Regions from separate parts of the Homo sapiens genome. Here region 2 is linked to region 1. A link means that fine-mapping ties the variant in region 1 to the expression of a gene that starts in the linked region. Tissue or cell type: blood mononuclear cells. Region 1 holds a variant in brackets; the other region holds the start of a gene. All regions are shown on one strand. Distances are from middle to middle.

Evidence for each region. PIP is the estimated chance that this variant, and not a neighbour inherited with it, causes the effect.
Region 2: PIK3CG starts here. The variant in region 1 is fine-mapped to the expression of PIK3CG in blood mononuclear cells (TOPMed, PIP above 0.99).

Annotation. Positions count from the first base shown.
Region 1 is chr7:106,913,378-106,916,140 of GRCh38, forward strand. No RefSeq gene overlaps it. Among named protein-coding and RNA genes, the nearest start is that of PIK3CG, 49 kb to the left of the region's middle. The variant A/G (reference allele first, on the strand shown) is at 1,478.
Region 2 is chr7:106,863,570-106,866,332 of GRCh38, forward strand. It overlaps PIK3CG (phosphatidylinositol-4,5-bisphosphate 3-kinase catalytic subunit gamma), which reads left to right and starts at 1,713. Exons shown (of 11, transcript NM_001282426.2): 1 at 1,713-1,857. RefSeq lists an enhancer at 1,785-1,884.

The DNA.
Region 1 (2,763 bases):
TCTGCTGTGTATGATTATCCGTACCAGTGGCTCCTGCTCCATTTTAGAGTATTAAGAGACCTCATTATTATTACATTACCTTGTTGCTATTTATACAAGATATTAATAGTAGGTGATAAGAAGCTTTCATTTCAGAGGCTTTATTTTCTCGGATTTGGTTTGGTTTGGTTTGGTTTGGTTTGAGATAGGGTCTTGCTCCAACCCAGGCTGGAGTGCAGTAGTATGATCATGGCTCACTGCAGTCTTGACTGCCTGGGCTCAAGCAGTCCTCCCACCTCAGCCTCCCAAGTAGTTGGGACAGAAGCATGCACCACCACACTCGGCTAATTTTTTTATGTTTTGTAGAGATGAGGTCTCACTGTGTTGTCCAGGCTGGTCTCAAACTCCTGGGCTCAAGCGATCCTTTCACCTTGGCCTCTCAAAGTGCTGGGATTACAGGCATGAGCCACAATGCCTGGCTCTGCTCTGGTTTTAAAATAGTGTAGGAATAGAACACATTCTTCACTACTGCTAAAAAAAAAAAATCCCCTCACAGGGCCAGCAGACAGAAGAGCACAGGAACACTTGAAGTCAGCAGAGAACCTTAAAGAGAACTTGTGGAGCAGTTTCTCAAACTTCACCATGTACATGTATCACCTGGGGTTGCAGACTCTGATTCCACAGGTCTAGGGTGGGCTCTTAGGTTCTGCATTTCCAACAAGCTCCCAGGTGAAGCCAATGCTGGCAGTCCCCAGGCCACACTTTGCATAGCAAGGCTCTGTAGGACATAGAGGCAGATTCAGTGAATGAGGAAAGTCAAATCAACAAGAGGGCTGAAAATATGTACCAATCTGTGTTGCGCAATACTTCTCAGAGACATGAATTGTCATCATACATGATGAACTACACACATACATGCATCATCAATCTCTTTTTTCAAATGGTGCCTCAATTTTCTCAGCCATAAAAGAGGCCTGATAATACCTAGCTCTGTGGGAGGTAGACCCCTAATATGGTCCTCATGATCTTAGCCTCCTGGTTCTCATGCCTTTGCGTGATCCCCTTCCTTTGAGTATGAACTGGACCTGTCAACTTGCTTCTAACAAATAAAACATGACAAAGGCGGTACAATTTCACTTCCAAGATTAGGTTATAAAAAGCCTGTCACTTTCACCTTGCAGGCATTCTCTAGCTCTCTTTTGAACCTGCTCAGCTTGATGGAGGCCCTTGCCATGTAGTGAGATGCTCTGTAGAAAGATCTATGTGGCAAGGAACCCAGGGAGGTCTCCAGCCAACAGCTCGTGAGGAATAGAATTCTGCCAGCACCCGCACTGGTGAGTCGGGGTGGGTATCCTTTCAAGTCAAGCCTTGGGAGAGACCCAGAGCTATATCATCCTGCTAAGCCATCCCTGGATTCCTGACCTATGGAAACTATGAGATAATAAATACTGTGGTTTTAGGCCACCAAGTTTGGGGATAATTTGTTATGTGGCAATAG[A/G]TAACTAATACATTTCAGAGTTTTCATGAAGATTAAAGAAGACAAACACATTAATGTATGGGTAAGAACTTAGCATAGCGCCTAGCACATGGGAGTTACTTGATGGTGTCAGTTAAATCTAAAAACAGCCAAGTCACAAACATCACCAGTACTTGTAAACAGCACCTGCAGCCAGTAAACTAAGGATAATCCATGTGTATAAAGTTTGCTAGTTTCCCCTTGTCAAGAAACTTTCAGACCCAAAAGTCTGACTAATACAAATAAGTAAAAAGAAACAACTAAATGTCCACAGGTGTGTTACATATATGTAGACAAACCCACTTTTAAAATGTAAGATTGGGCCGGGCGTGGTGGCTCACGCCTGTAATCCCAGCACTTTGGGAGGCCAAGGTGGGCAGATCACCTGAGGTCAGGATTTCGAGACCAGCCTAGCCAACATAGTGAAACCCCGTCTCTACTAAAAAAAAACACAAAAAATTAGCTGGGCTGGTGGCAGATGCCTGTAATCCCAGCTATTCGGGAGGCTGAGGCAGGAGAATCGATTGAACCTGGAGGCGGAGGTTGCAGTGAGCCAAGATCATGCCATTGCACTCCAGCCTGGGGGACAAGAGTGAGACTTTATCTCAAAAATAAAAATAAAATAAATAAAATGTAAGATTGTTTTTTTTCCCCCTAGATCTTGGAGCAAGATCAAGTGCCCCAGCAGGTACTCAGGCAATGATGATGATGATGATAATGATGATGATGATGATGATGATGATGATGATGGTGGAAGGGGAGCTCCCACTCAGCTGTGTTTTGTAAAATGATGATCCCACTTTTTCTTCTCATTTCCCCTCTCCTAACTTCTAGTTTATTCAAAGAAGCAAGTTCAATCGCAAGCATCAAGCTAAATGGAAACTATCAAGAAACATTTAAGGGAAGTCAGTCCCAGGCTTAAAGCTGCTACTCTCTTAATAGCAATAACAGCCATTCATCCTCAGCTAGAAAGAAAGAAAAGGATCAGCATTCAGACAGCTCTTGCAGAAGCCCTCAAAAGGCCTGAATGATTGTTAGCCATGCTTTTGCTTCTGCCTTCATTTAGATTTTAGCAAACACTGCCACAGATCACTCAGAGGTAGCTAAAACTGGCTAGGGTGGCTAATAAGATGTTGCCGAGAGCTGGAGTGAAGTCACAGATGAGAGCATTGAAACCAGTGGTTGAAACTGGCTCAGTACCACCAAAACCTCTACGAAAATCACTGTGAAAGCCTCTAAAACCAAATCCACATTCAGCAGACATTTAT
Region 2 (2,763 bases), 50 kb before region 1:
TCAGAAGCAGGCAGGGCCAAGAGGCTGAGTCTCGTGTTTCTGGAATAATGTGGCATGTGTGTGTGTATGTGCAGTGCCAGATTGGGACTTGGCCCCCTGGAAGTGACTGAGCCAGGACAGGGAAGGGATCTATTGAATGGTCTGGGGAACAGGGCTGGCCAAGCTCATGGTCCCTCTGAGGTCAGCCCTCCCACCCTCAAACCTCCTCCCACTCCACCCACCCCCAGGAACCCTCCCACACACTCTGGGTAAAACACAGCTTGGCAAGCTCTCACATCATGGCTTGGTGGCTACAGTGTGTTGATCTTCCCTCAGGACCAACCAAGAAAGCTAGCCTTGGTGCTTCTAAAGCTGCCAGCCTCCTAAGGGAGTATTCCTATATAGGAATATACTTTGAGAAGCTGATAAGACCCCTCTAAATATTTGGGAGGCAGCCTTTGAATTAAATTATTTGCCTGCTGATGTCAACTATTAGAGTGCTATTTAAAAGTTAAAACCCAAGAGGCATATGTAAAAGGAAATAAGTCAAATCAATCATTTATCTCAATATCAGAGTAATTCAGAGGAACTCTTAATTACATACCTCCAAGAGACTTGTGAGGTCAACTCCATTCTATCTGCTGCCCTTGAAGCTCAGCTGGAGTCCCTCAACACCCCGATTGGAGGATGAACTCTAGCATAGGGAATTCTGAGATGGAGGGAGGGGGCGCTGGTTCAGGATGCTTGGAGGTTCTAGAAAGAACTGAGGTCACCTGGAAGATACAACGCTACTCTAAAAATGATTCAGGATGGCTTTTCTATGCATTCTCTACTCCCATAGGAATCAGGGGCCACCTCCCAGGATGGAATCTGCCTGATGCTGTAACAGTGTTCAGCTCCCCAATTTCCCCATGATAACAGGCAACCTCCTTCTGTTTTGTCTACAGTTAATTAATCAGTCATTGCTGACAGTAAGGCTCCATCCTCAACACAGGATATTTTCTGAAGCATTAATTTTTGTTTCAATAGTTGATCCTTGTTTGGAATATAATGTGTTACAATGTAGTGGTACTTAGTATTAAAATCAAAATACCTTTTTATTCATCTTTCAATTTTAATACTTTTAGCATTTCAACCATTATTTGAAGGGTTACTTACTGCAGTATGTCACATTTATATACACACATGCACATGCTGCAGTGCTTTCAGTTTGAGCCAGTGATATTTTAGGCCCCAAATGCTCTGAAAAAATAGAGAAAGCTCTCACCAAGCTAAGGAAGTGAGCTTGCAGACCATGCCTTTAAAAATTTTCAGCTTGATAACTTAGTCCTCAAGATGACTAGGTTTCTCTTCCCCCACCCCTCAGTTAGCATGTGCGAACAAGGATTCTTTTGAATTCCCAGGAGGGGAATGAGTTTAATTTGACTGGTAAAAGTCTTCCTAATAGGATACCTAATACTGTGGCTCTTAGAACTAGCTACAAAGATATTTCATATGTTTATGTCTCATAATGGGTAATTTTGGTTTGGATTTATGTCATTTTGTCTCAGTATCACAATTTTTGAAAAATTAGTTCAAAGAGAAAAAAAAAAGAAAAGAAAAACCATGGTAAACATTGCTCAGTCTCATACTCCTACCCTCTCTATGCTAAAACAGGAAATGCATTTCTGACACTTTTAAAATGAGCAATCACACGTATAATCAACTTGGTTAAAACTTCCTTCCTGGTAACTGCAACACTTCCTCTGCATCTGGATATGAAGGGAGCCCCAGAAAAGCGGAAGAATTTAGACGCACACTGGGTAGGTTTGAATTTGTTTTGTTTTCAAAAATTAAACAAATGATCCTTCAGCATCATCGCCTCCGCTGCTTTATCAGGTATTGCTTCCTTCTATTTTTTGCTCTTTGTGGGGTCTGACTCGGAATAGTGGCACTTCCTTCTCGGCTAGATTATCTGAAACTGTTGTCGGTTCTTGAGATGATACTACCACCGAATGTCTGTGTTTCATTGTCTAGTCCAACCTGTATTGTGGATATCTACAACGTTCCGGCAATAGTTTTGCAGGTGCATCACATTTTTGTTTTTGTTTTGGGAGGAAAAGGGAGGGCACGGCAGCCAGGCTTCATATTCCTACAAGTGCATGCTTCAAGATTACTGTACTTACAGTGTTTCCAACATCTTCTCATAAAAGGGGAAAGCTTCATAGCCTCAACCATGAAGGAAACCAGTGAGTATTAGTCAGCCTGTTTTCCTCTGCATCTTATAAGATCGTTTGGTATCACTGAGGCAGAAGTTATTGCTGTGTATTTATATGCTGCCTAAATTTGGACATGTTTTATTTCAAGTTAGTGTCAATATCAATGTATCTTACAGTTCTCTTCTTTGTTAGTTATTCTATAATGTAGCAAAAGACCAAAATGAATGTTTTAAGCCACAAGAGACAGTTCTTTGGGACAGTTGGTTTCACTTACTAAGTATAACTTCATATTTTAAGAGAGGGAATATTGGTTTTAAAAGTTAAGCCAAGATTTGAACATAAGTTTGGATCAAATGAAATTTGTCTTTCTTATCTTCTTATCAAGCTCTCCTTTTTGGTATACATCAAATGCTCCACTATTTCTTAAGGAAATAATGTAGTTTTAAGTCTAACATTAGTTATTTAAGAGAGTAAACGATATTTTCTGAAACATTAATTTTTTGTTTCAATAATTGATTCGTTTAGAATATAATGTATTACAATGTAGTGATACTAAACATTGAAAGCAAAATACCTAATCTTTCAG